Homo sapiens: one gene and its partners. The protein of the gene in region 3 interacts with the protein of the main gene of each other region in a biochemical or structural test. Each region holds a gene or a part of one and is shown on either strand. Other genes may lie near its edges. The genes, in order: IRF1, CASP3, BIRC3 and PELI1.

Region 1 (6,697 bases), on a different chromosome or scaffold from region 3:
GTGGCAGACTTGTGTTTCTGGAGAAGAGAGTCGATCATCTCAGCAAATTCTCAAAGGGAAAAGCCAAGATCTTAGAAAGTGTGTGGCTTCAGGGGGTTTGTGGCTAGATGAAAGTTCTCCCTGGCAAAAGCATCTGTGAAAAGCAGCTGTAAGCCAGGGCACTGAAAGAGACCCAGGTCTGCCTTTTTCTTCGTGTTGACCAAGGCCCTTGGTCCAAGCCTCATGTGGTTGGTGGCCTCCTTTATCCTTGAGAGATGGAGCTCTAGGCCCATCTCAGAACAGTCAGCCCACCCATTTAGTAACTGTTCTCTGCTGCCCAGTCTGTGCCCACTCTACCCTCTGGCTGCTGATAGCCCAAGGAGGAAGACTGGGCATAGTCTGAGACACAGATAGTACACTTTGGGGATATGGGGACTCTAGTGCTTCTGGCTGGGCCCTTCACTGAGGCCCGCTAGATGTGTTTAAGCCAAGCCTGGGCATTTGAGAAGGCCCAGGGCCTAGGACCTGCAGAGTGTCACCGGGAGTACCTGCTGGTTTGACCACTGTGGCTCTCTGGTAGCATAAGAGGTCAGGGGTACCTTGCCTTCCTCCTTCAGGCCAGGGGCAGCTGAGGATCCCTACCCATGGCCCTGACGATCCTCTTTTTTCTCCTGCCCTCTAGGCCGATACAAAGCAGGGGAAAAGGAGCCAGATCCCAAGACGTGGAAGGCCAACTTTCGCTGTGCCATGAACTCCCTGCCAGATATCGAGGAGGTGAAAGACCAGAGCAGGAACAAGGGCAGCTCAGCTGTGCGAGTGTACCGGATGCTTCCACCTCTCACCAAGAACCAGAGAAAAGGTATCCAAGGACTCTGGGTCCTTGGGAAGCCCTCAGGGAGGGAGGGTAGAAGGAGGTCAGCTGGGGCTGGAGAGCCTGCACCAAGGCTGACAGCCCGTCTGCCCCACAGAAAGAAAGTCGAAGTCCAGCCGAGATGCTAAGAGCAAGGCCAAGAGGAAGGTGAGTGTGGTCCTAAGCAGCCAGGCCTTTGGTCACCTGTGGGCCAGGGTGAGCAGTGGAAGAAATGCTAAGGTGGGCCTGGGCCTAAGCTGCTTTCTCCCTCGACAGTCATGTGGGGATTCCAGCCCTGATACCTTCTCTGATGGACTCAGCAGCTCCACTCTGCCTGATGACCACAGCAGCTACACAGTTCCAGGCTACATGCAGGACTTGGAGGTGGAGCAGGCCCTGACTCCAGGTGAGCTGGTCCAGGTCTGGCAGGAGACCCCACAGGTCAGTGGGATGACTCTTTCTCTTGGAGGCATGGTGCTGGCACATGGTGGCCCATTAGTGCAGGCTGCAGGGTTGGTCGGAGGGCGCTCGATGTCTTGCAAACTAAGAAAGCACACAACCTTGACCTGTGGCTTCTGCTGTTCCCCAGCACTGTCGCCATGTGCTGTCAGCAGCACTCTCCCCGACTGGCACATCCCAGTGGAAGTTGTGCCGGACAGCACCAGTGATCTGTACAACTTCCAGGTGTCACCCATGCCCTCCACCTCTGAAGGTTGGTGCTCCTGGGGCCTGGCCTGCCTGCTTGACTGTCTGGGTCCTGTGAAGGGCTTCCTGAGAGAGAAAAGATGATCAGAACTCCACCTGGCACTGAATTGATTGAGTTGGGCATTGCCCAGTCTTAGCCACCATAGGGGGAGGCAAGCGACGGGGACACTAGGAAGGCAGTTCAGAGTGGGCTGCAGTACAGTGGGGGCTGGTGAGAGGAGGGAAGGGGGCCAGGGGCTGCATTTTGGGGTGCTGGTTCTCCTTCCTCCTCTGTAGCCCAGCATCTGAGGGTGAGGAAGGAAGTAGGGTAGGGGTGGGAAGCGGCGTGGCTTCAGGGTTTGAGAGGCTGAGTCACCAGGCCAGGGTCCTGTTCTGGAATCTCTATGGCAGATAGGTCCACCGGGAGGGTGTGTGTGTGTGTGTGTGTGTCAGAGAGACAGAGAGACAGAGAAAGGGCAGGGGGATCTGGTGGGCTGGAACTGGAACTGCAGGGTGAGTGTGGCTGACTGCCAGCCAACCTCTCTGCTTTCCCCATCCACAGCTACAACAGATGAGGATGAGGAAGGGAAATTACCTGAGGACATCATGAAGGTAAAGCCCCTTCCTACCTGGGCACTCTTGAAGTGACCGTTTCTCAGTGAGGAGAGAGAACCAGTGAAGCTTCCAAATCAGAGGATGGGTAGCTGCTGTTGTCACCTGGCTGCTTGCATTGTCCCACAAGTGCCACATTCACGTGGCTTGACTGGTGGGAAAGCCACCATGGGAAGGGAAGGCAGGTGGGAGGCCTGGCCTCTGACAGGCCGTCCTGAAGCAAGCCTTGGGGCATCAGACAGCTCTGTGAGTCAGGCACTATCAGCGATGGGTCCCTGGCCTGCATCCTCTGCCCCAACATGCCCCAGCCCTGCTAGTTCGGGAAATGCACATCAGGCTTCAATAATCAGCCTTTAGGATCCGTTAATATGATGATGGCTTTATAGAAAAAGTTAGCAAATTATCCTCCAGGTTTTTTTTTCTGCTTCAGTTTTGAAAGTGAATATAGTTTTTGCAGCCGGGGGCAGTGGCTCATGCCTGTAATCCCAGCACTTTGGAAGGCGAAGGTGGGTGGATCACCTGAGGTCAGGAGTTTGAGACCAGCCTGACTAACATGGTGAAACCCATCTCTACCAAAAATATAAAAATTAGCTGGGCCTGGTGGCGCATGCCTGTAATCCCAGCTACTCTGAAGGCTGAGGCAGGAGAATCGCTTGAACCTGAGAGGCGGAGGTTGCAGTGAGCTGAGATTGTGTCATTGCACTCCAGCCTGGGCAACAAGAGCAAAACTCCATTTCAAAAAAAAGTTTTTGCAGTAGTTGTACGCCAGCTGTTCCATTAGCCCAAAAAATTGAGACATGGATGTCGTTCCTTATCTCTAGCTTTTCTAGTCATCTTTTCTTGATTTATTATGCTAACCTTTGTTTTAAGCCACATTCCCTCTTACTATGTCCTTACACAGTTGAGAGGGAAGTCGTGGAGATGCTATACCAGAGAGTGGGTGTGAGAGGGGTGGGAAAATGAATTGAGGACCAGTGCCAACATGCATTTCTGCCTCCTCCCTCCCGGGCCCTTGTCCTGACTGCAGTGCACTTCTGCATCCTATCTGAGATTGTGAAAATGGCCAAGGGTGTGATACTGGCTGAGAGGAGCTGGCTCATTGAGGGCAGGGCCACAGGGTGAGTCTGCACTGGAAGGGAGTTGATAGCCTCTTGCTCTTCTGTCCCCAGCTCTTGGAGCAGTCGGAGTGGCAGCCAACAAACGTGGATGGGAAGGGGTACCTACTCAATGAACCTGGAGTCCAGCCCACCTCTGTCTATGGAGACTTTAGCTGTAAGGAGGAGCCAGAAATTGACAGCCCAGGGGGTAAGAAGGCCCTGGATCCTTATGGCTTCTTAGATGAGGGAGAACCACGTAGGGATGGAGAAAGCTTGGGGGCAGGGCCAGGGAGCAGGGCGGTAAAGCATCTGGGGTACTGACACATTGTGAATTAGCTACGGCTGCCATGCCTTAAGGTTTGCCTGAAGCTGAGTGGATGTTTACTGCTGTGCTGGGAAGAGCAGAGGCCATGTCTATGGCCTTCAGGGGTAGGGGGAAGCACACCTGATGCCACCGTCCCCTACCCTCATACAACCTTCTTCACATCTTCTAGGGGATATTGGGCTGAGTCTACAGCGTGTCTTCACAGATCTGAAGAACATGGATGCCACCTGGCTGGACAGCCTGCTGACCCCAGTCCGGTTGCCCTCCATCCAGGCCATTCCCTGTGCACCGTAGCAGGGCCCCTGGGCCCCTCTTATTCCTCTAGGCAAGCAGGACCTGGCATCATGGTGGATATGGTGCAGAGAAGCTGGACTTCTGTGGGCCCCTCAACAGCCAAGTGTGACCCCACTGCCAAGTGGGGATGGGGCCTCCCTCCTTGGGTCATTGACCTCTCAGGGCCTGGCAGGCCAGTGTCTGGGTTTTTCTTGTGGTGTAAAGCTGGCCCTGCCTCCTGGGAAGATGAGGTTCTGAGACCAGTGTATCAGGTCAGGGACTTGGACAGGAGTCAGTGTCTGGCTTTTTCCTCTGAGCCCAGCTGCCTGGAGAGGGTCTCGCTGTCACTGGCTGGCTCCTAGGGGAACAGACCAGTGACCCCAGAAAAGCATAACACCAATCCCAGGGCTGGCTCTGCACTAAGAGAAAATTGCACTAAATGAATCTCGTTCCCAAAGAACTACCCCCTTTTCAGCTGAGCCCTGGGGACTGTTCCAAAGCCAGTGAAATGTGAAGGAAAGTGGGGTCCTTCGGGGCGATGCTCCCTCAGCCTCAGAGGAGCTCTACCCTGCTCCCTGCTTTGGCTGAGGGGCTTGGGAAAAAAACTTGGCACTTTTTCGTGTGGATCTTGCCACATTTCTGATCAGAGGTGTACACTAACATTTCCCCCGAGCTCTTGGCCTTTGCATTTATTTATACAGTGCCTTGCTCGGCGCCCACCACCCCCTCAAGCCCCAGCAGCCCTCAACAGGCCCAGGGAGGGAAGTGTGAGCGCCTTGGTATGACTTAAAATTGGAAATGTCATCTAACCATTAAGTCATGTGTGAACACATAAGGACGTGTGTAAATATGTACATTTGTCTTTTTATAAAAAGTAAATTGTTTATAAGGGGTGTGGCCTTTTTAGAGAGAAATTTAACTTGTAGATGATTTTACTTTTTATGGAAACACTGATGGACTTATTATTGGCATCCCGCCTGAACTTGACTTTGGGGTGAACAGGGACATGCATCTATTATAAAATCCTTTCGGCCAGGCGCGGTGGCTCACACCTGTAATCCCAGCACTTTGGGAGGCCGAGATGGGTGGATCACCTGAGGTCAGGAGTTCGAGACCAGCCTGGTGAAACTCCATTTCTACTAAAAATGCAAAAATTAGCTGGGCGTGGTTGCGGGTGCTTGTAATCCCAGCTACTCAGGAGGCTGAGGCAAGAGAATCGCTTGAACCTGGGAGGTGGAGGTTGCAGTGAGCCGAGAACATGCCATTGCACTCCAGCCCGGGCACCAAAAAAAAAAAAAAAAAAAAAAACCTTTCATTTGGCCGGGCATGGTGGCTTATGCCTGTAATCCTGGCACTTTGGGAGGCCAAGGTGGGCAGATCACCTGAGGTCAGGAGTTTGAGACCAGCCTGGCCAACATGGTGAAACCTCATCTCTACTAAAAATACAAAAATTAGGCCGGGCACGGTGGCTCACGCCTGTAATCCCAGCACTTTGGGAGGCAGAGGCGGGCGGATCACGAGGTCAGGAGATCAAGACCATCCTGGCTAACACGGTGAAACCCCGTCTCTACTAAAAATATAAAAAATTAGCCGGGCCTAGTGGCGGGTGCCTGTAGTCCCAGCTACTCGGGAGGCTGAGGCAGGAGAATGGCATGAACCCCGGAGGCAGAGCTTGCAGTGAGCCGAGATTGCACCACTGCACTACAGCCTGGGCGACAGAGCGAGACTCCGTCTCAAAAAAAAAAAAAAAAATTAGCCGGGCCTGGTGGCGGGCGCCTGTAATCCCAGCTACTGTGGAGGCTGAAGCACAAGAATCACTTGAACCCGGGAGATGGAGGTTGCAGTGAGCTGAGACTGTGCCACTGCACTCCAGCCTGGGTGACAAGAGTGAGACTTTGTCTCAAAAAAAAAAAAATCCTTTTGTTTATGTTCACATAGACAATGGCAGAAGGAGGGGACATTCCTGTCATAGGAACATGCTTATATAAACATAGTCACCTGTCCTTGACTATCACCAGGGCTGTCAGTTGATTCTGGGCTCCTGGGGCCCAAGGAGTGTTAAGTTTTGAGGCATGTGCCATAGGTGATGTGTCCTGCTAACACACAGATGCTGCTCCAAAAAGTCAGTTGATATGACACAGTCACAGACAGAACAGTCAGCAGCCCAAGAAAGGTCCTCACGGCTGCTGTGCTGGGTAGCACTTGCCATCCAGTTTCTAGAGTGATGAAATGCTCTGTCTGTACCGTTCAATACAGTAGGCACTGGCACTAGCCACATGTGCCAGCTAAGCACTTGAAATGTGGCCAGTGCAATAAGGAATTGAACTTTTAATTGCATTTAATAAACTGTATGTAAATAGTCACATGTGGTCAGTGGTTACCATATTGAACAGTGCAGGTAGATACTGGACTGGGGGCAGATCTGAGGGAGAGGGGTTTGAGTAGTGGGAGGACACTGGGGATAGGGGCTTGGGGCTATTTACCTGCCATTTTGAGTAGTTTGCTATTTTAGCAGCCAACAATAACTATTGGTGCTGAATACCAGCCCTGCAGTGTAGCATGAGACAGGTCCATGCACACATGCATTAGGAAAACACCTTCATGAAGCAGGATTCTGCCTGGGCTGATGCACACAACCTCTATGGAGGGTAAACAGTGTTTCTGAAGACCGTAGTTTGGGAACCCCTGACATATGACAATGCCCCCTTAGATAAGCTCAAGTTACAGGAATGTCTGAGGGTGGAAGGTGTGGATATGTGCTTTTCCTGTCTCCCTCTTCAGTGTCTGGCCATGGGGCATAAACACTACCCAGCAGTAGGTAGGCTGGCCAAGAGAAGCCAGCTTGCATCACCAGCATCATCTAGGGAATGGAATCAT
Region 2 (7,032 bases), on a different chromosome or scaffold from region 3:
CCAGGTACTTTGCAAGGCACTCAGTTTTAATCTTTTCAAAATTCTAAACGTCAGAAAACCCAACTTCTGGTGGTTAAGTGACTTTGTCGACAGTCACAATCTAAGTGACAGGGCCCTCTTCCCACTCTGCTATGCTGCCTCTGAAGAAGCCAGCTCCTTACTACTTTTCTGGAGTTCTACCAGGCATTTTCTGGCTTTTCGAAGCAAAGGTACTTCCCATGGCAATCCACCTCCCTAAATAGAGGAAAACAAGAACAAAGGCAAAACAAAAAACAAAAACAAAAAATACTGAGTGACCTTCTCCACACTCTAGAAACCCTGACAATGTCAAAAATTCCAGTCAAAATACAACTTTAACCTCACTCCTATGATAAAATCAGAAATACCAAAATAATACACAAGCCTATAACAGAACTTGCTCACCCTCAAAAGTCCTTCTAGAAAGTCCTAGGTAACTTCCCCCACTTTTAAAAATTTTAATCTTTAAAACTGTGGTGAAATAGACATAAAATTTACCACTCTTAAGCGTACAGCTCAGTGGCATTGAGTACAGTTACACTGTTGGAATCCATCCCAGGACTTTTTTATCTTCCCAAACTGAAACCTTTACCAAGGTCCCCAATTTCAAGGTCTCTTGGAAAACATCATTTCTTCCCTTCTATTAAGACAAAGCTAAGCTCCTTCCTCCCCTCTCTCCCAGTTTTGTGTGCACCCCTGGTGAGGAAAGGTGCAGCAATAATATAGAAGACAGCCAGTGCCACCATCTCAATTTAACCACAGGAGAGGGTGATGTTTGACCTTCTCCAAGAGCCAGTCTATGCTCTGCATTTCTACGAAGACTTTGCTTTTCTACCATCTTACTTCCTGTAGGCTTTCTGGAAAATCAAGGGAAGATGTGAGTATAATTGGGATAAATCATCTTTTAGTTTGTCAGTAAACAAATACTTTGTGCCAGGTATCATCCTGGGAAATAGGACAGAGTGGAAGACAAGACAAAGTTCCTATCTTCCATTAGATCTTACTTTAGATAGAAGAATAATTATACAGTAGTATACCTGTGGGGCAGGGGCAGGGGGTACCTCCCAAGTCCCCCAGTAGATGCTTGAAACCAAATACAGTACTGAGCCTATATGCAGCATATTTTTTCCTATACGTACATACCTATGAAAAAGTTTAGTTTATAACTTGGGCGCAGAAAGGGATTAACAACAATAACTAATACGGGTACCTGAACATAAACACTGCCATACCATGACAGTTGATCTGATAATCGAGACAGCTACTAAGTGACCTGCCATTAGTCACTCAGTACATATTACATATTAGTATGTCTTCACATATTAACATATTTATTAACAGTGGCTGTCTGGGTGATGGCATTACTGACACCTTATTTACTCCTTAACATTCCTCTATATCTTCTAATTTTTCTATAACATCTGCATTTTTTAAAAGTGAGAAAACAGTAACAAATATTATTCTATAAAATAATATCAACAAAGGTCAGGATTGTTCTAGCCAATTTCAACTCTTGGCCCTGTTTCAAGAGTGACAAAAATAGGGGTATTCTCCTATCAAAGTAGCCACCCTTCCTTGCCTCTATCATGCTCAGTACCATGTTCCCCTCTATCTGCCCTTTTTTCTTTCATATGTACAATAAACATGTATTAGGTACCAGGAAATCTCGAACTTCCTTGAACCATGAATATCATAGAGACCAACTTGCCCCATGCACATCAATTCAAAGCGGACAGACCACATACAAAATCATTAGCCACCTGTGGTTGAGAAACAAATTGTGGTTAACTTGATTAACTGAGAGAACAGTACAGGGTAGCTAACAAGTCTGGAAACGTAGGTGAACACATAATAGTTTACTGATATTGCATTATAATCCATGAGAAAATATCTTTGTTTCAAGACTTTATGGCCAATCTATAGAAAATCTAAAGTGAAAATCCAGTGGGCCTCATCAAAGATACACAGACTGCAAATAATGGGAAATGCTAATTAAAGCAACAATGAGGTATCATTACATACCTAGCAGAATGGCCAAAACCAGAACACCATCAACACCAAATGCTGGTGAGGATGTGGAGCAACAGGGATTCTCAATCACTGCTCGTGGAAATGCAAAATGGTACAGCCAACTCGAAAGACAGTTTGGCAGTTTCCTACAAAACTAAACATACTCTTACCATATGATCCAGCCATATGGTAAATACGCACTCTTTGGTATTTACCCAAAGGAGTTGAAAACTTATGTTCACACAAAAGCCTGCACACAGATGTTTATAGCAGTTTTATTCATAACTGTCAAAACTAGAAGCAACTAAGATGTCCTTCAGTCGGTGAATGAATAAATAAACCGTGGTATATCCAGAGAACAGAATATTACTGAGCACTAAAAAGAAATGAGCTAGCAAGCCATGAACACTTTAAATGCATTATTACTAAGTGAAAGAAGCCAGTTTGAAAAGGCCATATATACCGCATGATTCCAACTATCTGACAATCTGGAAAAGGCAAAACTATGGAGACAGTAAAAAGATCAGTGGTTGCCAGTGGCTAGGAGGGAGGGAGACAGCACAGAGAATTTTTTTTTTTTTTTTTTTTTGTTTTGAGATGGAATTTCGCTCCTTGCTCAGGCTGGAGTGCAGTGGCGTGGTCTCGGCTCACTGCAACCTCCGCCTTTAGGTTTCAAGCGATTCTCCTGCCTCAGCCTCCTGAGTAGCTGGGATTACAGGCGCATGCCACCATGCCAGGCTAATTTTTGTATTTTTAGTAGAGACGGGGTTTCACCATGTTGGCCAGGCTGGTCTCGAACTCCTAACCTCGTGATCTGCCCGCCTTGGCCTCCCAAAGTGCTGGGATTACAGGCGTGAGCCACCGTGCCCGGCCCGCACGGAGACTTTTTAAGGCAGTGAAACTACTCAGTGTGACAATATAATGGTGGATACAAGTCCTTGTAAATTTGTCCAAAACCATAGGATAAACAGCACCAAGAGTGAACTTGATTGTGAACGATGGCGTTTGGGTGATGATGACGTGTCAGTGTAGGTTCCTTTGTAAGAATGTACTACTCTGGTGCAGGATGTTGATAATGGGGGAGACTACGCACGTGTTGGGGGGCAGGTGGGATACAGGATGTCTCTGTACGTTCTTCTCAATTTTGGTTTGAACCTAAAACTGCTCTAAAAAATGAAGTCTAATTTAAAAACTGGGAAATAAGACTTAATAACTTCGGAAGCTGAACCTGGAGCTCCTGGCAGTATCCTTTCTAGCCCCCAGTCTGCCTCAAATTGGCTCTCTGAATGCATGTGCCAAATGCAGGGTTCACAGTCTGTGCTCAGGAACCCCTAAATGCTGATCAGCTTCCACAGACAACCAAGGACCTAAAGATCTCTTTTGAACACTTCTGCAAACAGTCTAGTAACTCTTACACTGAAATACTGACTTTTAATAAACTTGTGTCTTTTGCCAGCAATAAAATTGTGGGATAAAATTATTCTCTCCTTGTGACTGGTAATGGAAACTTTAAATAGTGACCAGCTTTTCAGAGTACTGTAATATACAAATACTATACAAATACTATAGTGGACTTCATTAACTTCATTATTAGTATCTGAACAACATACATTGCCTCAGTTATCAGTTTATTTTGATATACTTCTAAAAATTTATATGATGGTAGATGAAATCCTTACAGCATCAGACATGCGCACATTTGCTCTCTACTTGTCATCATCCGCTTTTTCCACATGAAAGCACCAAATCCACACTCCTGGGAGCAGAGCTTTGGTTCCCGCAAAACTCACTGAAGTGCTGCTTAGCATGACATCACCTCCATTAGCTAGTGCCCAGCAGGGTACAAATTATTCTGAGGATGGTGATCTCATCTTAGAAGGATAAAAAAATCACATCCTAAGGGAAATAGTCACTGCCTTAAATGAAAACAGAAATTTTGCCTGTAATCCCAGCACTTTGGGAGGCCGAGGCGGGCGGATCACAAGTTCGGGAGATCAAGACCATCCTGGCTAACACGGTGAAACCCCGTCTCTACTAAAAATATAAAAAATTAGCCAGGCGTGGTGGTGGGTGCCTGTAGTCCCAGCTACTCAGGAGGCTGAGGCAGGAGAATGGCGTGAACCCGGGAGGTGGAGCTTGCCGTGAGCCGAGATCGCGCCACTGCACTCCAGCCTGGGCGACAGAGTGAGACTCCGTCTCAAAAAAAAAAAAAAAAAAAAAAGAAAACAGAAATTTTGGTTTTTAGAACATTCTTATTTGACAAAATATAAATAGGAAAAATAATTGTGATTTAAAAGATTTATCCTGGCATAGCAATGGACTTAACATGAATTGTTTCTTACTGGGCTGATGTGTGTGTAATTCTGTTCAATTCAGGATGCTGCTGCTAAGAAAGGAAATTTCTGAACACATATGTTTATGGCAAAGTTCTCAGTAGACCAACTGATATTACTTAGAAACCTGGAACTCAGGTCTCAGAATCACTTGTCTAGTTCCTGGATCCCTTAACACTTGCCACCAACGCTGTAACAGTCAGGTCTTCAAACACAAAAAAATATTGTCAGTATAAATTTACTTCACTCTAAAATAGATACTTAGACATTTCAAGCTGTGTTTTCCTACACAAGTAAAAAACTAGAATGTTCTCCCTATTTACATGGTGGTTAGCCAACTACTCATTACAATACTGAAGTAAAGCAGACTACAACATCTATAGCATTAAGGCAGAGAAATAAAAATTAATTTCTAAAGTGAAATTTCTATATTAAGCTATAAAGTATTAACAATTTGAAACAACCTGTTATTAAAGAGTGAATGTGTGAAAGTGTGCCTGTGGTGGGGAATTCAAAAGGAGATGTTAAATTAGGATTGCCAGTCTCTAAAACTGAAAGAAAAAATACATTATTTTACAATAGGATTTAAAATATTTGATAAAGATTTCTCAGGGACAAATACTATAGTGGACTTCATTAACTTCATTATTAGTATCTGAACAACATATATTTTCTCAGTTATCAGTTTATTTTGATATACTTTAAAAATTTATATGATGGTAAAGGAAATCCTTACAGCATCAGACATGCGCACATTTGCTCTCTACTTGTCATCATCCGCTTTTTCCACATGAAAGCACCAAATCCACACTCCTGGGAGCAGAGCTTTGGTTCCCGCAAAACTCACTGAAGTGCTGCTTAGCATGACATCACCTCCATTAGCTAGTGCCCAGCGGGGTACAAATTATTCTGAGGATGGTGATCTCATCTTAGAAAGATAAAAAATCATATCCTAAAGGAAACAGTCACTGCCTTAAATGAAAACATTTATGTGCCAGTCTCTAAAACTGGCAATCCTAATTTAAATTTTAAATCTCTAAAATTCTTAATCAGCTCATTAGGCTGTTGCTGGTTCCTGTCCTACAGGGAAACTCTGAGGTAAGAAATAAAATCTGGTCTCTGCCCTAAGGGTTTTTAAATCTCAAAGTGAGACCTAAAAAACAACTGTTAGTTTCTGAATCATGTCCATGAATGTAAATGCTTTTAAGAAACATTTACTAGTAAAGATTTACCAAAACAGTAGCCAAAGGATGTGGCGTGAGAGCTGTGTGCAAAGCGCTGCGTGATGACTGTCCCTCTTAATGCTGGCTCATACAGGCTAGGTACTGAACTCAAAGTACAAGCGTATTTTCGTGAGTCCTCCCAATGACACTCTGAGGCATAAGGATCCCCACTGCAGAGTTCAGGTGACTGAGGCTAAGAGAAGTTAATGAACTTTAAAGTCGCACAGCCAAGATTCAAACTAGGATCTTCCCAACTCAAGAGGGCAGACTCCCACTATTCTGTAGACAGCTTAGTACTATATAGGAATGATAACACTTAACTTCAGGGAAGGAAACAAAAATCCATAATCTCAGAAGCTTTAAATAAGACAAAGAAAATAAATAACATGATAGAAAGTTACTGCAGAGATAACAAAATAACATAATGCACTGAATTCTAATGAATGAAAAAATGGCAAAAATGACTATGGCATTTCTGATGCGACTAGGTAGTTTACTTTTGTGTTTTCTTTCCTTTTTTAAAAAAATTTAACAAACTTCGCATGTGGCATTCAATTTACTTCTAAAGTGAAATAGGCCAGACACAGTGGCTCGCGCCTGTAATCCCAGCACTTTGGGAGGCCAAGGTGGGAGGAATGGTTGAGATCATGTGTTCAAGACCAGTCTGGGCAACACAGAGAGACCCCATCTCTATAACAAAGTAAAAACAAGTAGCCTGGCATGGTGGCACACACCTGTAGTCCCAGCTACTCAGGAGGCTGAGGCAAGAGGATTACTTGAGCATAGGAATTGGAGGCTGCAGTGAGCTATGATCGCACCACTGCACTTGAGCTTGGGTGACACAGCAAGGCTGTTTCTAAAAATAATAATAATAAAAGTAAAATAACTGGTTTCATGTTCAGCGTTAGGTATATGTCATTAAAACATATTCCCTGTATCTCTGTGTTCCTCCAAAGGAAAAGTGAAGCCTGTCCAGCAGGACTTCTGGGGAGATTACACTTCTGTCAAACAACTTGAAAAATATCAGGATTATATTTATTACCTGTCAGAGAGGACAAAGTCTCAAAAGCAGTCACGTTTCCAGATTTAGCAAATGAAACAGAAAGAACATCTGTTTCACAATAGTTTGGACAAGAAAAGACTTCAGTTGTGATGTACCAGAGGTTTTATCAAAATCTTTTCCCATCTGGTCTCTGAATTCATTTGAGTACGTATAAGAATTATCAAACTGGCGATTGTAACTGGGCCTGGTGAAGTCAATCTTTTAATATTTGTTATGTAATTAAGGTAAAAATATGAGAACAGGAATGTAAAATCAAATACAGAATACATTGAAATAAGTTCCATTGTACTATACAAACAAACCATCCTTTCCTTTCCTCTGGCAAGGGCCACGTGACCAGGAAGACAGTACAGAGCACTCTCCACTATTCAAAGCCTCTGAGTTT
Region 3 (5,452 bases):
AATTATTTATTAAGACATGGTCTTACTATGTTGCCCAGACTGGTCTTGAGCTCCTAGACTCAAACGATCCACCTGCCTTGGCCTCCTAAAGTTCTGGGATTACAGGTGTGAACCACTGCATCTGGTCTTGAATTTTCTTAGTAACATACATAGTGTCTACTATGATGTGCAAGACAACAAAAGGAGGTGACATCTTCTCCAATAGGAGCTGAATATGGTTCAATCACATTGCCTGTGACCACAAAGGAACTTAATGGCTAATGGTATCAAGCGATATAAGGAAATTAAGAGAAAGGTTGGAATGGAAGCTATAATGAGCATGGCTGAAGTATGAAATTAAGCCTGCTGCAAAGTCCTGTATGATCACACTTAATATATTGAGGTTTAAACCCAATGACTGAAGACCACGTTGGCTGGTAGGTGGGGTTGGAGGCAATCAAATGGATTAATGCATGTCAAGCACCTGAAAACATCTGACATTTGGTCAGCAAATAGATCTACCATTATTATCTATGGTGATTTATTTTTTCCAAAACAAAATGTCAAAATAACACTTAGGGAAATAACATATTTGAATAAATGGGTTGGTTATAATAGCTATTTATTACCATAATGAGAAATGAACAAAAGTTTTACAGTGAGATGACAAAGTTCAAATATTATCTGTAGTATACAAGAACTAGATAAAAAAAAAAACACATGGTGCAAAAAGGGTGCCTACTATTTAAATACCCTATACCTGAGTTACAAATCACCTAAGCACAATTACAAATAATTCAGCCTAGCACCCATGCAGGACACTGGCTAGTACATGGGTAGCCAGCAGAGCCTCTTAGCAGAGGCAAAATCAATTGCATTTCAAGGAAATAAGTCTCCCAGCATCAGAATGCAGAGATGGATTCTTTCCTCCCCTCACTTGGTCCCTAATTGTTCTCTTTACAACACTAGCAGATGTTGGGGCTCAGAAAACCCAAAGTGAAGGCCTCAGAAGCAAAGTTTTTCTCTGATGTTATCCTGCCCTCCTGTCTCAGCCTCATTCTCCCTGAAGGCAAGCCACAGAAACTTGAATTCCTCTTCCCCAAGGTAGGTCATAGAAACTGGAACCATCTTTCCACAATGCCAGACTTACATCTTAAAGATAGTACTCTAATCTTTCCTCACCTAACTATGTAAGAGCTGGCCATAAATAAATTCTCTGACCTACCTTGCTTGATAGCAGGTTATAATATCCCCATCCCATACAGGCCCTGCCCTATATCCAGGAGGAAGGAATGCTGCACAGAGACCAAGAATAATCTGAACAGACAGGCCTTGCTGGGTCCCCAACCTGTGTCTATTCCCATTAGATCATATCCTTTTTTTCCAATCACTATTCTTCAGGGCTGTCCATTCATTATCAAACCTAAGCATAAAAATGCACAGTTTCCCCTGTAATTTTGGATCTTCATTACGAAGGCTCCCCGGTGATGTAAATCTGTGATTAAATAAATTTGTTAAGTTTTTCTCTTGTTAACCTGTCTTTTGTTATAGGATTGTCAGCTGTGACCCTTATGAAGGGGTCTTTCCCTTCTGCCCTTACAGAGCCATCTGCCCCTATACAGACATCTAGAACTGGTTTAGATGACTAGCCTTTGCCTGCCTTCCCCTGAGTATTCCCTATTACAGTCTTACTTCTGCTCTTGAAGACCTAATACCTCTATAAGAAGCAAAGGACAGAGTTATGACTCGGACGTGTTGAGTACCAATAACATAATGCAGAGGGGGACATTTTGTTGCACTGACAATATGAAACAGATTTATTTACCAGAACAACCTGTTGGTCCCAAGCATTGCTAACCAGTGTACTTTCTAAGTTTCAGAATTAATACCAAAGAGATAAGAATAAAACTCAGACCTTCTTCCAATAGGTGGGGCTGGCATGAGACTTCTTGAATGAATCAATAGAGAAGTGAATAAACAAACTTACTAAAGGGACTGTTTGATTCTTGTCTCAGGCATTCCATAATAGATTTTATGATGTGTTGACCCCGTGTTCTACAAGTGTCAATGAAGAAGCATCTTATGGGAAGGAGTATAAACTGTAGTTCAATATTTGAGAGGCTTTAAGAAGGTATGGAAAGAGTCTGGGAGTGACTAAACTATCCAATGTCATTGAAATAAAGCAATGAAGAATAAGAGTAATTTTTGTTGCTTTATTAAATTTTTTCTCACAGAATTCTTTATAAAAACACCATGTCCCTAAAATGTCATTCAACATATATGCACACCTTCGATGTATAGGACACTGATCAAAAAAGACAGAGAAATGTGTCCCTGGTGTTTTGTTTTTGTTCTGTTTGTTTTTAAAGGCAGGGTCTCAGTATGCTGCCCAGGATGGATTCAAACTCCTGGGCTCAAGTAATTCTCTTGCCTCAGCCTGGGACTACAGGCACATACCACCACACCTGGCTTCATGTTCCCGGTATTAGTACAATGCCAAAATATTTAAAATTCTTAAAGGTTAACTCAAATATCTTAAGTTTTACTTCACTTACAATTTCAATAATGCTGAAATTTTGATTGAATATTGTGTTTGTAGTGCTACCTCTTTTTCGTTCATAAGAACAAAAGCCTATCATTCTCTTAGTTTCTAAAAAATATATGTTCATATGGTTTAGATACATATATAAATATGTTACACAAAACAATGTTTTTTGAGTTGTAAATAAATAAAAATTTTAAGGAAACCAAATTAGGATAAAAGTTAAAGTTATAATACATTTAATAAATTAATTCTAAAGTTTAGACGATGTTTTGGTTCTTCTTCATGAAAGAAATGTACGAACTGTACCCTTGATTGTACTCCTACAAATAGGACACTTTCTTAAAGAAGGAGCACAATCTTTGCATACTACTAGATGACCACAAGGAATAAACACTATGGACACTTCTTTGTCCATACACACTTTACATGTTCTTTCTTCTTGTAGTCTCCGCAATTGTTCTTCCACTGGTAGATCTAGAAAGAGGAAAGAATTTTTAATAAAAGGCAGTTTGCTTCTTCAGTGAAAAACTAAGAAAATAAAGACAATGTTCTCTATTGATTTAAAATATTAGTACTATTACCTGAAACATCTTCTGTGGGAATATATTTTATGTCCTGTTGCACTAAGGGAGAAAAAGAAAAAGCATTACTATGACAAATAAGGTTAATATTTAGCTATGGAATCTATTTTAAAAATGAACACTTTAGACTATAGCCAAATACTCATTTCAAGGCAACAGAAGTCTTTAATCTTTTTATGTAACTAATATCTATAAATTAGATTGATTTTTTTTTGAGACAGAGTCTGTCACCCAAGCTGGAGTGCAGTGGCACAATCACAGCTCATGGGAGCCTCTATCTCTCAGGCTTAAGCCATCCTCCCACCTCATCCTCTTGAGTAGCTGGGATTACCAGGCATACACCATCACAAATAATTTGTTTTAAAAATTTTTTGTAGTGATGGGGTCTCGCCACGTTGTCCAGTCTGGTCTCAAACTCCTGGGCTCAAGCAATCCACCTGCCTCAGCCTCCCAAGGTGTTAGGATTACAGGCATGAGTCACCACATTCAGCCTGAATTATTTTCAGTAGTCATAAATTATTAATAAGAGCGTATTTTCAATTGACTTAGAAAATTTTTAAAAATAATTTTCTATCACTCACCAAATAAATGCTCATATAACACAGCTTCAGCTTCTTGCAGAGAGTTTCTGAATACAGTGGCTGCAATATTTCCTTTTACTAAAATCGTATCAATCAGTTCTCTTGCTTGTAAAGACGTCTGTGTCTTCTGTTTAATAACATCATGTTCTTGTTCATTAATAATTCCGGCAGTTAGTAGACTATCCAGGATTGGAATTACACAAGTCAAATGTTGAAAAAGTGCCATTCTATTCTTCCGGATTAATAATAAATCATCTTTATAAAAAAGAAAACAAGCATAAACATGTTCAAACTCTGCTCACAAACTTCCTTCCAGTCCTATATATATAGCAGGATAAAAACTATCTTTAATTCGTAATCAGTAAGGCATTGATGTTGATTGCTAGGTTTAGGGGTGTCTCATCTCCTTTGCTTAATAATAATGTTATTATAATTATAATCCAGGGTGCAGTGGCACATGCCTGTAGCACCAGCTACTTGGGAGGCTGAGGTAGGAGGATCACTTGAGCCCTGGAGTCAGAGACCAGACTGGGCAACATAGCAATACCCTGTCTTAAAAAAATATAATAATAATAATAATAATGCTACTTATAGTAAGGACTAACATTTAGTGAGCACTGTGTTAAGAACTTTACATGTATTGATTCATTTCATCTTCACAACAGCTCTTTGAGGTAGGTCCTAATAGCCTCATTTAACAAATGAGAAAATGAAGCTGCAGTGAGGCAATTAAGTTGCCGAAGGACACCACAACTAGCAAAAATCAAACTGAGGTAGTCTGGTGTCATGTACTGTGCTTTCAATCATTTGGCAATACTGCTAAGCCTTTAACCAAATGGAACTTAGAACCCATTAAAATTGACGTTTCAATTCAATCTAGTCAAATTGGGGAAAGACAAAATCAAGAGAATTAAAACAATTTTTTCTTAAAGTGTCATTCTTCCATAAAATTTCTTTTATTATTTATTTATTCATTTTTAAAACAGAGTCTTGCTCTGTCGCCCAGGCTGGAGTGCAGTGGTGCGATCTCAGCTCACTGCAACCTCTGCCTCCCAGGTTAAAGCTATTTTTGTGCCTGAGCCTCCTGAGTAGTTGGGATTACAGGCATGTGCCACTACATCCAGCTAATTTTTTGTAGTTTTAGTAGAGATGAGGTTTCACCATGTTGGCCAGCCTGGTCTCGAACTCCTGGCCTCGAGTGATCCGCCCACTCCGGCCTCCAAAAGTGCTGGGATTACAAGTGTGAGCCATTATGTCCGGCCCATAAAATTTCTTTAAAATTCCATTTTAAGTTGAAATTTTAATTATTTCCAGAAATTAGACATATTGCCATTACCTAAATATTTTATAGTAAGCAGGGAAAGGCAGTAACAGCATTTTGAATAATAAACCCTATTTGTCAACGACTACCTTCTCGTCCTACAAGATATCATCTAATTCTCCTTCAAGACCTAGATTTTGTATCCATTGGTAAAACATTTTATATTTTAAAACTGCAGTTTTATTATCTCTTTGGAATATAACTTATGAATCTAAGTTTATTAATTTTCATATAGCTTACCATAATCCATAAAGCTGTTTCTAAAAAATAACTAATGACAGAGGCTGAGCTATCTGAAGAATTGTTTTGGGAGAGAGGATTGTTAGATTTTAGATACACTGACTTTGTCAAGTGATAGGACTCATAAAAAGAACCATTTAAGAAAGAATAAAAAATGGAAAAAAGAAAACAGCAAAAATCAAAAACAACAACCAGAAAATAAAGA
Region 4 (7,032 bases), on a different chromosome or scaffold from region 3:
GCTGAATACATGAGGTCAAACTAACTTAATTGAAGACCAACAAATGAAGCCAGTAATCGAGACATTCGGATGTTTTTTATGTACATACTCATTTAAAGTTCTCAAGTACATGACTTCAGGAATTTTTTTTTTTTTTTCTTTTTTTTTGAGACAGAGTTTCTCTCCGTCACCCAGGCTGGAGGATCACAGCTCACTGTAGCCTCAAACTCCTGGGCACAAGTGATCCTCCCACCTCAGCTTTCTGAGTAGCTGGGGCTATAGGTGCATGCCATGACATTTGGCTAATGTTTTCTGTTTTTACTTTTTTTTTTTTAAATCTTTTGTAGAGACGGGAGTCTTACTATGTTGCGCAGGCTGGTCTCAAACTCCTGGCCTCAAGTGATCCTCTCACCTTGGCCTCCCAAAGTGCTGGGATTACGGGCATGAGCCACCATGCCCAGCCTAGGAATTCATTTTGAAGAATTCTTTTACTCAGATTTTAAAATATAGAGAGAATATATAAAGACAGTGAGTAGGAAAGCATTGTCTAGGTACTGGTCTTTGTTAAAGAGTATAAACCTTTGGGAAGATCATGAATCTTTCTTCAGAGAACACATAAAAAAAAAAGTTCCAGGAAGAATAGCTGTCACAGCATTTTATTTGCAGTTTAATAAGGCCAGTTGTATATTGATTGATTATATGCCATTTTTAAATTTTGAAAACTATCTTGGGTCATTTATGTATATAAATAACTGGTACTACAAAAGTGTTTTATTTTGGGTTTAGATTATCAAATACAGAAGTAGAAGCCAAGATTGAATGTGTTCCTGTGATTGAAACTTTGATGTCACTGATAAAATATCCCCAGATAAGGCCTTCTAAGAGATCTAAGCAGAGTAAGAATATGTCTGATTGGAAATATATTGTTTTTCTTGGCTAATTTGACCAAGGGCTCTAGAAATTATATGGAGGGTATATGCCAGCCGTACTCTTGTTTTTTAGTTTCTTGTCTAAGCAAAAAAATTGTTCTTTTGCTATAGACGCAATAGAACTAAATCTATAGTGTTATGCACGTTACTTGTAAATTCTTATGTCAGGACCAAATGGTCGCTTATATTTTTTCCAGCTCCCAAATTCCCTTTATTCCACTTTAGTCCCTTCATTTTCAGAGATGAGGAAACAGATTGCTTTGTTCAAAGACAGCTAGAACTAGAACACAGGCTAATACTTGCTAGCCATGTGATATACTAATGTCAGCCAAATACGGGCATTTACACTTTCAGATGTTTGCCATATCTGTGCACTTACTAATTCTATTTAATACAATTTAAATTGACTCCTTTAAATAAGCTTATTTTAAAGGAAATTTTTTGCTACTATAAATAGAAAACCATTATATCCTTTAAATAGTAACTCTAAATAGGAATTCAAAACAAAGCAACGTTATTAAAATTTAATTTAAAATTAATTTAAATTTAATTGTTATTAAATTTTTAATTATTGCTGTTCTTCGTCAGAAATGTGTCAAAGCATTGTTTTCATGTTTGATGTCAGTTCCTTAATTGTCTAAACAGAAAAAGCACAGCTAATGCCTCTAGTTAAGCTTCTGTATAACTTTTTTAAATGAAATGCTTCTTAGAGGGGAAATGAGAGGGCATGAATACATGTTTATATACTAAAGTATGATTTCATGTATATCAGAAGATCTTATTATATGGAACCAAAATTATTCTTTGGTTGATTTAATTGTTCTTGAAACTTCAGTTTTTACCTTGAAGGTTTTAGTTAGCTTAGCATAAGTTTATTTTTCTAAATAAGGAATCTGATTGCCTCACAACTCAGATGTATCACAGTTATGGTGAAATAGCAATATATTGGTTTCTGTAACCTTTTAAATACCGTAATGAATTAAAATCTCTTCAGCAAAAGCAAATATATCTAGGGTGACGAGAGGTGTTTTTAGTGTATTTGAATGATGGAAATGTTTTTCTTAAAATATTTCTGAAGCATTTTTTAAAATAATTTTTTGAATTTATTGATGATAGTAGTTGTGTGTTAGTGTGAATGACTGGTCTAAATGTGTATGTCACTTCCAAGGGATTAGTAGGGGTCAGAATGATTTGTTTTATTCATTGACTTTTCCTTTGACGTGTTCTTATTCATTGGGCTACATACATTCCCTGTTGCCTTCTCACCAAAAGTGCCACTACACAGGCTGTATTTCATTGTACTGTAGAAAAAGACAAGTAGACCTTTTTCATTCATGAGATTCCTATGAAATCTGTTGGTGGAGGTATAAAATGAGGAGACTTTTATGGGCTAGCTAGTAGGAGTTTTGCTGTGAAACCTTTGTAACAGGTCTATCAGGAACTAGGGAGAGAAATAAATGCAGGAAATACTTGATCCCATTAAACTGAGGATGAAAAAGACATGATAATATTTTGGGGATTATTTATTGTGTGATTTTCCGGCTGATCAGAAGTGTTAATTTTTTGTTATACTTGTGTCAAATACATATATATATATATATTTTGAAATGGAGTCTTGCTCTGTCACCCAGGCTGGAGTGCAGTGGTGCGATCTGGGTTCACTGCAACCTCTGCCTCCAGGTTCAAGTGATCCTCCTGCCTCAGCCTCCCGAGTAGCTAGGACTACAGGCACGTGCCACCACGCCCTGCTAATTTTTGTATTCTTAGTGGAGATGGGGTTTCACCATGTTGGCCAGGCTGGTCTTGAACTCCTGACCTCAAGTGATCTTCCCACCTTGGCCTTTCTGAACTATTTCCTTTACACACATTTAGAACTACATCTAACTGTATTATAGTTTTCACTTTCACCATCAGACAAAATTCAGAAGATTCAAGAGAAGGAAAGTCGATTGTATTTACTCATATTTTTGCTACCGTGTTTTTACATCTCATATTTTAAGGTTCTTTTATTTATTTATTTTCTGTTTAGTTAATTTCCTCTAGCCATTCTTTATTTATAGTGGGTCTGCTGGTAACAAATTCTCTCAATTTTTCCTCGTCTGAGAATGTCTTGACTTCCCTTCCATTTTTGTCAGCACCTGAAAAATACTATGCCACTATCTTCTGGGTTCTGTGGTTTCTGATGAGAACTCCACTGTCAGTCTAATTGTCGTTATAAATGCAGTGTTCTCTCTCTCTCTCTGCTTCCAGGATATTTTTTCTTTTTTTTTTTTTTTTTTTTTCTTGAGACGGAGTCTCACTCTGTCGCCCAGGCTGGAGTGCAGTGGCGCAATTTTGGCTCACTGCAAGCTCTGCCTCCCGGGTTCAAGCGATTACTCCCACTTTAGCCTCCCAAGTAGCTAGGACTACAAGGCACACCACCATGCCTGGCTAATTTTTGTATTTTTAGTAGAGACGGGGTTTCACCATGTTGCCCAGGCTGGTCTCGAACTCCTGACATCAAGTGATCTTCCCGCCTCCGCTTCCCAAAGTGCTGGAATTACAGGCGTGAGCCACTGCTCCCAGCCTCTTTATTTTTTCAGCTTTACTCTTTCTTCTGTCTTTTTGACATGTGTGTCCAGTGACACACGTGTTAGATTTTGCTATAGTCTCACGCACGGGTCTATAAGGCTCTGTTTTTTGTTTCATTTTGTTTTTCCTATTTTCTCTCTATTCAGATCGAGTAATTTCCACTGTTCAGTTTTATCATAGCTGCTTTTAAATCTTTGTCAGGTAATTCTGTCATCTAAGTTTTGGCACCTATTGATTATCTTTTGCATTGTTTTTGTTTTTGTTTCTGTTTTTGTTTTGAGATGGAGTCTTGCTCTGTTGCCCAGGTTGGAGTGCAGTGGCACTGATCTCGGCTCACTGCAACCTCCTCCTCCCGGGTTCAAGTGGTTCTCCTGCCTCAACCTCCTTAGTAGCTGGGATTACAGGCATGTGCCACCACGCCCGGCTAATTTTGTATTTTTAGTAGAGACCAGGTTTATCCATGTTGGTCAGGCTGGTCTCAAACTCCCAACCTCAAGTGATCCGCCTGCCTCGACCTCCCAAAGTGCTGGGATTACAGGCGTGAACCACTGCACCCAGCCTATCTTTTGCATTGTTTTAAATCTTGTTCTTGCTAGGATGAATGATTTTCTGTTAAAACTAGATATTTTCATATTATGTTCCTAGGCTCTGGATATTATCTAAACCTTCTGTTTCCACTGGCTTTTATTGACACTGCTTTGGCAAGGTCATAGGGGGTGCCTCATTACTGCCAGGTGGACATAGAAGTCAAGGGTCCCTACTCAGCCTCTACTGATGCCTCAGGAAGAGGATCCTTCTTGTTATTGCTGGGTGGGGGTGGAAGTCTAGCTGACACCTACTGAGGTAGGTGCTGGGGCATGCCCGGCCATCAGGGTGAAAGTCCTGGCTCCCTAGTTGGCCTACTTTTACATTGCCCTAATAGGGCATTGGAGCTCCTCACTATGGTTTATGAGCTGGAAGTCAAGGCTCCTCACTTAGCTTTCGTTGGTGTGGGTGGTGGTGGGGCAAAACTGTTTTCTGGGTTTGGCTGGAGTGGAGCAGTTACTGTCAAAAGTTTTCTGTCTTGCCAGGCTGTCCCTTTCTTGTTTCTTTGGCTAGAGAGAGCAAGCTTTTGTTGTGGCTCTTTTTGTCTGTGCCAGTTGGCATTTCCAGGTTGCTGCCTTCTTTAGCTCCAAGTCTGGGATATATTAGGCAAAAAGAAAACCCAGAGAATTTACACCACCGTGTCATTCCATGGGTCCTGAGGTCCCTTACTTAGTCTGCCTTCTCTCCACTTTTCACAGTCTTCTCATGTTTTGTATATAATGTCCAGGGTCTTTAGTTATACTTAGCAGAAATAAAAGGGAAAAGTATGTCTGCTCTATGCTTCTGTAAGTGGAAGTCTTCAAATTTGCATTTTTGATTCCTTTAAACAGTTTTGTAAAATATATAATCATTATTGGGCAAAATGTCCCATAAAATGTATATACCTTGTGATGGTTTGCATAATATTGTGTTCAAGAGGACTGCTGAAAAATAACATCTTTATTTAAACTGAAACGAATTGTTCACATTATTAATGAAAACTTTTCCCCTCTAGGAAATAATGCAAAAGGTGTCCCAAGGCTCCTGACCAGTGAACAAAGATTTGAGAAAGACAGCCAAGCTCATGTTTTCTCCTGATCAAGAAAATCATCCATCTAAAGCACCAGTAAAATATGGTGAACTCATTGTCTTAGGGTAAGGTTTCTCCATTTGATGACACACACAGTTTAATAATATATGCTAACTTTGGCATCTAGGCTAAAAGTACTTTTTTTTTTGGAATTTATATCTTACCTGCTTCCAAAAAGAATTTAAAGCTACAGGTAATGTTACCAAATCAAGAAACTCTTTTACTTCTCATATTCATGCCATCTTTTAAAAGCACTCAAATATGACATAAGCTTTGTCTCACCCTTACCCACAGAAAGGGCAGAGTTTCTCAAAGATGAAATGGAAAGTCCGGGCATGGTGGCTCACGCCTGTAATCCCAGCACTTTGGGAGGCCAAGACAGGCAGATTACCTGAGGCCAGGAATTCGAGACCAGCCTGGCCAACATGGTGAAACCCCATCTCTACTAAAAACACAAAAATTAGCCGGGCGTGATGAGGCATGCCTGTAATCCCAGTTACTTGGGAGATTGAGGCAGGAAAATTGCTTGAACCCTGGAGGCAGAGGTTGCAGTGAGCTGAGATCGCGCCACTGCACTCCAGCCTGGGCAACAGAGTAAGACTCTGTCTCAAAAAAAAAAAAATGAAATGAAATGAAAAATGTTATTTATCCACTGTCACAGTCATTCCATTTGTCTTCCCTATCCCATGTTTTGCCTCAGCTGACTTTACCAAAAATTCCCTTTCCCTTCCCTGCTTTAAGTCATTTCATGTAGGTTAGTCTTCATTTATTCTTTTGCCTCTCTACAGTAGTTATTGCTTTGTGCTGTACATTTGGGTTAAAGGAGTTGTATATGTGTATGGTGACAGCATAATGCCTCTGAAGCCCAGGACCTAGCTACTTCTTAGCTCCTAACGTAATTTCATCCATGTAACTCACAGAAATAGAATCTGAAGATTGAGGAATAGATGATTCTGTTATTCCAAATTATTTCAATTTATTCCACTTAAACTTGCCATTAACTATCAAAATGGAGACACAGTATTAGCCTTTCCTAACTAGAGATCTCAGAAACTAGAAAATTGCTCATTTTAGGCCAGGTGCAGTAGCTTATACCTGTAATCCCAGCTTACAGGTGGGAGGCCTAGGTGGGCAGATCACCTGAGCTCAGGAGTTCGAGACCAGCCTGGCCAACATGGTGAAACCCCATCTTCACTAAAAATACAAAAATTAGCTGGGCATGATAGTGCATGTCTGTAATCCCAGCTACTTGGGAGGCTGGGGCAGGAGAATCACTTGAACCCAGGAGGAGGAGGTTGCAGTGAGCTGAGATCAGCGCCACTGCACTCCAACCTGGGCAACAGAGCAAGACTCCGTCTCGAAAAAAATGAGAAAAAAGAAAATTGCTAATTTTATTTTCCCCCTACTGTTTCCCTCCTTTTGCCTAAAAAGCAACTCTAGATATTGCGGTATGTTTGAGAGTCAGGTTGTTAAAGTGAGAATGCGTTGTTTCAGTTGAGATAGTAAGAGAAACTGGGGAAATCATATGGAGTTACTGAGCTTGACTGGATGTTAGGAATCCTAGAATCCGGTGCTTGTTCAGCACTGCTAGCTGTGTGACCTTGGGCAAGTCACTGAACCATCCTGGGCCTTAGTTTCCTTGTCTGTAAAAATGACAGATAAGATCATCTAAGGCCCTTTGAGACTTAAAATTCTTTTCTCAGAAACAAAGCTTTAAAAGATCATAAATTTAGCATAGTAACTACAGTATTAGAACTTCAAATCACATAGATTTTAATGGTATCAATGACAAACAGCTCTTAACTACCAAAAACTTTTCCAGATTAAATTCTTCTAGCAGGAAATTTGAGAGTCATTTGAAGAATAGTTTAATATTTAGCTTAGGGTTTTAAACCGCCA

The links.
Region 1: of the proteins of BIRC3 (region 3) and IRF1, one has a biochemical effect on the other in vitro, tested with the Homo sapiens proteins (one study listed by BioGRID).
Region 2: the proteins of BIRC3 (region 3) and CASP3 form a complex in vitro, tested with the Homo sapiens proteins (one study listed by BioGRID).
Region 4: the proteins of BIRC3 (region 3) and PELI1 form a complex in vitro, tested with the Homo sapiens proteins (one study listed by BioGRID).

Annotation. Positions count from the first base shown.
Region 1 is NC_000005.10:132,481,095-132,487,791, reverse strand, and holds the end of IRF1 (interferon regulatory factor 1), read left to right. Parts: intron 1-661; coding exon 662-838; intron 839-947; coding exon 948-997; intron 998-1,105; coding exon 1,106-1,235; intron 1,236-1,418; coding exon 1,419-1,541; intron 1,542-2,075; coding exon 2,076-2,125; intron 2,126-3,294; coding exon 3,295-3,430; intron 3,431-3,716; coding exon 3,717-3,841; 3' UTR 3,842-6,183; downstream 6,184-6,697. UniProt on the Homo sapiens protein: Transcriptional regulator which displays a remarkable functional diversity in the regulation of cellular responses.
Region 2 is NC_000004.12:184,639,434-184,646,465, forward strand, and holds part of CASP3 (caspase-3 isoform a preproprotein), read right to left. Parts: intron 5,290-7,032; exon of another isoform or gene 5,110-5,289; coding exon of another isoform or gene 5,098-5,109; intron 1-5,097. UniProt on the Homo sapiens protein: Thiol protease that acts as a major effector caspase involved in the execution phase of apoptosis. Following cleavage and activation by initiator caspases (CASP8, CASP9 and/or CASP10), mediates execution of apoptosis by catalyzing cleavage of many proteins.
Region 3 is NC_000011.10:102,334,455-102,339,906, reverse strand, and holds the end of BIRC3 (baculoviral IAP repeat-containing protein 3), read right to left. Parts: intron 3,942-5,452; coding exon 3,687-3,941; intron 3,148-3,686; coding exon 3,106-3,147; intron 2,999-3,105; coding exon 2,805-2,998; 3' UTR 504-2,804; downstream 1-503. UniProt on the Homo sapiens protein: Multi-functional protein which regulates not only caspases and apoptosis, but also modulates inflammatory signaling and immunity, mitogenic kinase signaling and cell proliferation, as well as cell invasion and metastasis.
Region 4 is NC_000002.12:64,106,406-64,113,437, reverse strand, and holds part of PELI1 (E3 ubiquitin-protein ligase pellino homolog 1), read left to right. Parts: intron 1-765; exon of another isoform or gene 766-875; intron 876-5,058; 5' UTR 5,059-5,127; coding exon 5,128-5,198; intron 5,199-7,032. UniProt on the Homo sapiens protein: E3 ubiquitin ligase catalyzing the covalent attachment of ubiquitin moieties onto substrate proteins. Involved in the TLR and IL-1 signaling pathways via interaction with the complex containing IRAK kinases and TRAF6.